Linked DNA regions of Homo sapiens: region 1 is linked to region 2. Evidence: fine-mapped expression QTL. Tissue or cell type: whole blood. Region 2 holds a variant in brackets; the other region holds the start of a gene. All regions are shown on one strand. Distances are between the middles of the regions.

Evidence for each region. PIP is the estimated chance that this variant, and not a neighbour inherited with it, causes the effect.
Region 1: it holds the start of B4GALNT3, and the variant in region 2 is fine-mapped to the expression of B4GALNT3 in whole blood (TOPMed, PIP above 0.99). The same link has a PIP of 0.9 or more in neutrophils.

Annotation. Positions count from the first base shown.
Region 1 is chr12:457,690-461,787 of GRCh38, reverse strand. It overlaps B4GALNT3 (beta-1,4-N-acetyl-galactosaminyltransferase 3), which reads right to left and starts at 1,849. Exons shown (of 20, transcript NM_173593.4): 1 at 1,243-1,849. The coding sequence starts at 1,411. RefSeq lists an enhancer at 1,698-2,681.
Region 2 is chr12:543,058-547,155 of GRCh38, reverse strand. It overlaps B4GALNT3 (beta-1,4-N-acetyl-galactosaminyltransferase 3), which reads right to left. Exons shown (of 20, transcript NM_173593.4): 4 at 2,722-2,817; 5 at 2,184-2,274; 6 at 1,687-1,787; 7 at 443-510. Among named protein-coding and RNA genes, the nearest start is that of B4GALNT3, 85 kb to the right of the region's middle. RefSeq lists enhancers at 339-873, 3,772-4,098. The variant A/G (reference allele first, on the strand shown) is at 2,338.

The DNA of each region.
Region 1 (4,098 bases), 85 kb after region 2:
TAAATATACATTTCCAACCTGAACCAGCTCAGCGACTGTCCCTAGTAATTCTCTCTCTTTGGCCACAAGAGAAGGCACAGCACCACACCCAACTCTGGGTAGAGAAGCTGACACGACGACAGGTCAGAGTCAGAGTATCTTCTCAGCTGCTTGCTCAGCCACTCTGTCCGAGTTTCCCCAAAGCGGGAGGAAAGTGAAGGCATGGGAGGCCACGTGCCAGAACTTTGAACCTCGGCTCCCCGGGCTTGCGTTGGGCACCTGGTAGTAACGGGAGTTTCTCCATTTCTTTTCCCAACTATTACAGGATCTTTTACGGCCCCTGTCACTGTCAGTTTTACTTTGTTAGGCCCATCCACAGTACGTTGAAAACCACCTCGCACAGCCATACCTATTGATGTAAAAAGGCAAAGAGACCACGCTCTCCTGTTTTCCTAGGAGGAAACTGAGGCACGGAAATATTAAGTGGCTTTGGCTAAGTTAAAAACAGAAGTAGGAATCTACCTGCTGCCCGGTCCACTGTGCTGTCCATCATCTCCTTAAACTGGGGAGTTTGGTAGATTTGCTCAGGGTTCAGAAAAGTGGCAGAAGGGGCGGCCCGAACAGGAGAAAGAGGGCGCAGCGAGGAGGTGGGAGATTCAAAGAGCCGAGGACGGAGGCTGGGAGAGGAGCGACGTATGGGAAGCGGGGAAGAGACGGGACTCTCCGAGGTATGGTAAAAAAGAACCCCCCTAGAAGATGCAGCAGGAGAGGAAACGGAGTGAGCCAAACAGAAGGCGGTGGGCAAAGTTTGGGCTGCGCGGACTGGAGCGCGCGCCTGGGTGTGGACGGCCGAGGGCATCCCGCACCCGAATCCCTAGCTCGCGCGTGGACCCCACGGACCTCCTCCCCGGGAACCGCAAGCCCGGAGCGGCTGGAGGGGCCCGGTCTCCGCCAGCGTCTCGGCGGGACGGGCGGGGAGCCTCTCTCCGGGTCGCTCTCCGAGGGGAGACGCGAGGAGCCCCCAGGGTGCCCCGGACCCACGTGGCCGGCGGGCAGGCCCGGGCTCGGGAATTCTGCGCTCGGCCCCGCGGCTTCCCCCGCCCGCAGCTCTCCCCGAGTACGCGCGGGGCGACGCCGGGCACCTGAGGGAGAAATGGGTGGGAAATCGGGTCTGAGGATGGGATGAGAGGCGGGTCCCCCCAACGCAGGAGCCGCCGCCGCCGCCCACCCCCGCGCCCTTCGCCTCCCCTGGGTGCTACTTACTCCGGTTCAGGGGGTTCCCGCCGACCTGGGCCGACGCCACCAGTTCCAGATACAGAGTCCAGAGCCCCACAGACACCACGGCGAGCGCCAGCAGCAGCCGGAAGCGCCTCCGCAGCAGCTTCACCGGGCGCAGGAGCAGCGGGGGCCGCGCGGCCCGGGGGCTCCCCATGGCGCTGCGCCGAGGCGGCCGCCGCCAGCGCGGGCTCCAACCCCCCGAGCCGCCGCCCCCCGGCCGGGCCCCGCGCCCAGGGCGCCCCGCGTCCCGGCCCAGCGTCTCAGGGCTGCGCCGAGGCCGTCTCTCCCGGCCGCTCTCCGGCGGGGCTCGGGCTCATGCTCCGGGCGCGAGGGGTCTCCGGGCTGCGCGGGCGCCCAGCAGGTCTCTCCGGGAGCCGAGCCCGGCTCCTCCTCCGCGCGTGTGTTCCGCGCCGGGCTCTCCTCCCCACGCCTCTCCCGTCGCAGGCTCGCTGCCGCCCTCCCTCCCTGCGCGCCCGCCCTCACTCGCTGCCCAGAAGGAGGCTTCCCCGGCGCCCGCCCGCCTGCCTCCGCCCGCGCCCCCGCCAGCCCCGGACCGGGCTCCGGGCTCTGGGCTCTCCTGCTCGCGGAACCTGGCCCGCCCCCGGCCCCGCCCCCGCCCCCGCCCCGGGCACAGGTGGGCTCCGCCCCCGAGAAGCCAGGGACGCGAAGAGGCCATTCGGCTTCCCTAGGGGAGCGAGAGGTGGGGCCAGAGAACTGGTGCCTGGTGCCTCCCCCGACTGGGAACGGGTGGGATGAGGAGGGGGCGAGTGATGATGCGGACTCTGGGTGACCGAGGGAAACCGAGTCACCACCCAGGCGCCTAACGGTGTGGTTTTAGGCAGAAGCGAAGTAGAGGCTGGTTTGGGCGACGCCCAAGGCTTTAGCCTCAGAGCCTTTCGTCGCCAACAGCAACGACCCGACTCCCTGCTTGACGAAACCAGTAGGCGTGAAATATCACGGGAGCCACTGGACGCTTAACGCAGACATAGCTTCGTTTTCCAGTTGAGATTTGAAGACCTTTCTTCCCAGCCTGAACCACATCTCCGAGAGGCGCTGGGGAAGTCGTACAGCCCCCACGGTGAACCCCAGCAAGCAGTTTTCCCCAGACTGGGCTGGAATGGCTGTTTGAAGAGAGTAGGTGTTTGAGGGTTCCGAAAAAGAATTTTAAAAAGAAAAGAAAAGTATTCACTCTTAGAGTTGAAAAGATCAGCAAGATAAGCCAGGCACAGTGGCTCACGGCTGTCGTCCCAGCACTTTGAGAGGCTGAGGCAAGAGGATCTCTTGATCTCTGGAGGTCAAGGCTGCAGTGAGCCGTGATTGCGTCAGTGCACTCCAGCCTGGGCAACACAGCAAGACCCTGTCTCAAAAAAAAAAAAATCAGTATTCCAGTCCTCTGCCTTCAGGCAGGTAAAGCATTATTATCTGATTTAAATTAGATAAAGTATCAAGGGGCAGAATAACTGCCCCAGGTCACTCAGCAAGTTATACTGCAGTTTTCTTTTCCATTATCTCTTCTGGGAAAAATGGTCAGGAGACTATGGGAAAAGTGAAGGATCAAAGTGTTCCTGGACATTTTAAAATCAAATGAATATCACACAAGTACTGTTCCAAGACAGAGGTTCTCACAGAATTGAGAACTATGTTTCCCTTCTCTCTGTTCTCACCTCAGTTGGATATTCAATAGTTTCTACAGGACTTTTCCTAATTAGCCTCCCCAACTCCAAGCTTCCCATCGCATCCTGTCCACTACCACCAGATGGTCTTCATAAAAAGCCAGGCATGGTGACACACACCTGTAGTCCTAACTTACTCGGGAGGCTGAGGTGGGAGGAGTGTAAGGTTGTAGTGAGCCACAATCATGCCACTGCACTCCAGCCTGGGTGACAGAGCAAGACCTTGTCTCAAAAAAAAAAAAAAAAAAAAAAAAATCCCGTATGTAGTCACACACCTGCTCAAAAATATTTAATGGCTTCCAATGCTTATTGATTAAGATACACACTGTAAATCCAGAATTCAGGGCCTTCCAGAACCTTTTCCAACTTTATGTGACCACATGAAACCTGCTCCAGCTAAAACGAGTTTATTCACTACCCTCCAACACATTTTCTTTTCTAGTTGGTCAACTTGTACCCTTTATCCAAGGTCCATTTCAGATTCTATAAAGCTTTCTTGGACCAGCCAAGTCCTAAGCAACTCCTTCCTTTCTGGAGCTTTAGTAGAACTTGCCATCTGTCTCACCATCTGATATGTTGGAACTTACTTGGAGTGTGTGAGTCTTGTTTTCCCAACCTCACTGTAAGGCTTCAAAAATGGGAGCTGCATTTCCAGTGGGTGGTACAATGTCCACTTAGCACTTAGGAAGGTTTGAGGATGGGGGTAGCACTTTGAGCAAACATCTTCCAGAACTTTCACTGCAGTTCTTTAGCAAAAAGGGTGAATCCAAAGGACAATTCTCTAATTGTAGCCCCTGGGAAAGGTCTCTGTGAAGTTCCAAAGCCACAGATTCCTGTACTTCTCATGTTCTTCTTTCTTTCCACAAGTCCAAGATAGGAGCAGCCAGTGTGTGCACGGCCTGTGCAAGCTCGGCTGAGTCAAGTGGGAAGTGACCGGGCCCTGTAAATAGAGTCCCTCTCTTACTAAGGGCAACCCAACTGGATTTTAGGTTGAGTCACTTTTAACACTTTGTCATGGAAACAGGTGGCAGCCTTGCCACAATTCTCTCCTCAAGACTGAGAAAGCTCATGCAATCACTTCGGTCAACCAAATGCTTGAAGCATCTATTATGTAGGAACTGGGAGAGATCTAAAACAAGAAGCATGCTGTTTAGTTGAGGAAAAAAGA
Region 2 (4,098 bases):
GCTCTTCCCGCCTGCGTGAGCGCGCGTGGGCCACCAGGGGGCGCTCTGAGGCCGCGCTACGCTCCCTCCCCGCAAGGGAAAGGGACTCGTGTCCCCAGACGACCGAGGGGGACCTCGGTCCGGGGTCCAGGCTGTTGTGGGTGTGGAGAAACGGGGGAGGGCAAGGACTGGGAGGAAGGAGACCTATTTTCCAGTCCCGCGTGTCACTAAAGAGCTGCGTGACCTGCAATAAGTCACGGCCTTCTGGGCCTCAGTTTCCCCATCTGTGAAACGAGGACGGATGGGCTCGCGGCTTCTGAGCCAAAGACCCGGTTGCCGGGAGCGTGTGGGTGCCGGACACACGGAAGCTCTGGAGTCGGCAGCTGGGCTGGCGGACAGGGGCGCAGCCGGGCTCCACCGAGGCACCGAGGCGCCCACAGCGCCTGTCCTGACCCTCACTCACCTCACCGGCTTGGAAATTTGGCTCCGAAATTTCCCAAACTCTCCCGGGGCGGTCCACTCCTTTCCAGTCTAGAGGTGTGGAAGAGAGAAGAGGAGGGAGGAACAGAGAAAACAGGAAGCACGCGAGGCGGTGAGTGCGAGACCAGGAAGGAGAACCAAGAAGTGAGAGAAAAAGGGAGGAAGACGGGCGGAATGAAGGTGAGAGAGGTAGGAGAGAAAACAGAAGGGAGTGAAGGAGTGAGCGTTGCCCACGCAGGAGGCAGCCCGCCTTGCCAGGAGCCCGGAGCAGCCGGATGACCTGCAGCGCGAGTCAGCACCCGGCCAAGGCCAGAGGGCCCCAGAGATGCTGCGCTGGGTGTCCCAAGCCGAATCGCTGTGGTCCTTCCCCAGCCTCAGACTCGCTCCCCACTCCTCCCTGTCCGCACTCTCTGCCCCACTCCTCCCACCTCCCCACTCCTTACTCCTCTCCCCACCTCCCCACTCCCCTCCTCCCACACCCCCCTCCCTCCTCTCACACCCCCTGCCCACTTCTCACTGCTCCCTCTTTCTCATTCCCCCCTCCTCTTCCCTCTTCCCGACTCCTTCCCGCTTTTCCCTCCTTCTCACTCCCCACTTTCCCACAACTCCCCACCCTAACTCCCAACTCCTCCCCACTCTTCACTCCTCCCTACTCCTCACTCCTCCCCATTCCTCACTCTTCCCCACTCCTCTCACCTCCCCACTCCTCTCATCTCCCCACTCCTCTCACCTCCCCACTCCTCGCACCTCCCCACTCCTCTCACCTCCCCACTCCTCGCACCTCCCCACTCCTCACCTCCCCACTCCTCGCACCTCCCCACTCCTCTCACCTCCCCACTCCTCGCTCCTCCCCACTCCTCACCTCCCCACTCCTCGCTCCTCCCCACTCCTCGCTCCTCCCCATTCCTCTTACCTCCCCACTCCTCTCACCTCCCCACTCCTCACTCCTCCCCACTCCTCGCTCCTCCCCACACCTCGCTCCTCCCCATTCCTCACTCCTCCCCACACCTCGCTCCTCCCCACACCTCGCTCCTCCCCACTCCTCACTCCTCCCCATCCTCAGTTTATCCCTTTGTAGAGGGGTAGGGGTGAGGGAGGAGACTTCTTTTCCACCCCTTCTTCCCCGCTGTCACACCAGAGATGCTAACAGTAATGAGCAGCTGCTGGAGGACTCAATGAACAGGCTCCAGGAGCAGATGGGAGGGACCGGGGTTGAGCTGGCCTTACCTTGCCCACACTGGCCAGCAGCTGGAGGCCTGAGACCTGGTCATCGAGGCTCAGCCAGAACTCCGCGTTGTCATCTGCAGCAATGGCAAACTGGATTTTCCCTGGGCAGCGGGGAGAGTTTCCAGATGAGGGCAAGGAGGGCATCAGCATAAAAGCTGGAGGCTTTTGTGAGTGTCTTAGCGATTAAATTCCCTTCAGTGCTTGATGCTGTGGCTTCCCTCTCTGTAAAGTGGGGGTTTCTACATCCTGGGAGACAGTGTGAAGATGGAGAAGACTTATATGGAGAGATGAGCTGGTTCCAGGCTGCAAACCAGGGAGCAAAGCAGCAGCCTGTGGGAGTTGGACAAGACCGCAATATGACTCAATTTCCCCTCTCTTCCTGAGGGTGGACTAACAGGAAGTTAGTCCAGTCTACCTATAACCTTATCTTATGTTCTTTGGGTCCGATGCAGAACTCTAGAGCAGGAAGAAGGATGGGGTTTTGGGGCTGGCCTCACCATCAGTAAAGGGGTGCAGGTAGCCAAAGATGCGGAGGCCATAGTTGGTCCATTTGGGGGACACAGCAAGCTTCCTCAGGGTTGTGCGAATCTATGCCAAGAAAGGGGAAGGAAACAGTTACCCAGAAGAGGGAAAAGGAAACTTCCCGCCAGG[A/G]TTGGCGGGAAGACCAGGAGGGGACTATGACAGGAGGGACCAGGGCTGTGGCTTTGTGAGTGGAGTGCAGGCTCAATTTCAGTTCCCATTTGCCTCTTTGTCCAGGAGACCTTGTACAGTGCACAACCAGCACAACTGTACATGGTGGCCCTGGGTACACTATATTGTGAGCCAGAGAGCCTGAAACTGAAATGATGCAGGGGATGAAATTGAAAGGATCCCTAGGAAGGAAACAAGGGAACTATTATGGGCAGACAAAAAGAGAGCTCAAGAGATAAAGGAGAAAATATGGACCAGAAAAGATGTAAGGAAAGATGAGAGACAGAAGTGGGCAGAGGAGGCAGGTGTGGAGGGAGGTGGGCAAGGCAGCCCTCAGGCACTCACATGGGGGTACAGTGGGAAATGCAGGTTCCTCCTGAGCTGCTGGATAGAGCTGCCACACCAGTCTTCAAACACATGCAGGTTGGCACGGCCCCGGAACTGCAGGGCGGAGACGCCAGTGGTGAGTGAGCGTGAGCACCCCATGCCCGCCCCAGATCCTCAGCTCCAGGGGGATGAGCATCCCATGCCCGCCCCAGACCCTCAGCTCCAGGAGGATGAGCACCCCATGCCCTCCCCAGAGCCTCAGCTCCAGGAGGATGAGCATCCCACACCCGCCCCAGATCCTCAGCTCCAGGAGGATGAGCACCCCATGCCCGTCCCAGCTCCTCAGCTCCAGGAAGATGAGCACCCCATGCCCGCCCCAGCTCCTCAGCTCTGGGAAGATGAGCACCCCATGCCCGCCCCAGCTCCTCAGCTCCGGGAAGATGAGCACCCCATGCCCGCCCCAGCTCCTCAGCTCCAGGAGGATGAGCATCCCACACCCGCCCCAGATCCTCAGCTCCAGGAGGATGAGCACCCCATGCCCGTCCCAGCTCCTCAGCTCCAGGAAGATGAGCACCCCATGCCCGCCCCAGCTCCTCAGCTCCGGGAAGATGAGCACCCCATGCCCATCCCAGCTCCTCAGCTCCGGGAAGATGAGCACCCCATGCCTGCCCCAGCTCCTCAGCTCTGGGAGGATGAGCACCCCATGCCCATCCCAGCTCCTCAGTTCCAGGAGGATGAGCACCCCATGCCCGTCCCAGCTCCTCAGCTCCAGGAAGATGAGCACCCCATGCCCGCCCCAGCTCCTCAGCTCCGGGAAGATGAGCACCCCATGCCCGCCCCAGCTCCTCAGCTCCAGGAGGATGAGCACCCCATGCCCATCCCAGCTCCTCAGTTCCAGGAGGATGAGCACCCCATGCCCGTCCCAGCTCCTCAGTTCCAGGAGGATGAGCACCCCATGCCCGTCCCAGCTCCTCAGCTCCAGGAAGATGAGCACCCCATGCCCGCCCCAGCTCCTCAGCTCCGGGAAGATGAGCACCCCATGCCCGCCCCAGCTCCTCAGCTCCAGGAGGATGAGCACCCCATGCCTGCCCCAGCTCCTCAGCTCCGGGAGCGTGACCACCCCATGCCCATCCCAGCTCCTCAGCTCCGGGAGGCTGGGCAGAAAGGGGCCGGTGCTCCTCTCACTGTGCGGGTCCGGCCCACTCTATCCCATTCCCAGCCCAGCACCCAGCACTTCTTTCAGGAACCTGGTGCTGATGTTCACCCCATGGCCTGGCCTTGGGGACAAGGTCTGCTCTGGCCATGCACACACACACACATACTCTCCCTGGACCTCCCATGCAGGAAGGGGGCTGGTGTTCATTCCCCAGGCAACGGGGACAATGGTTGTGACAG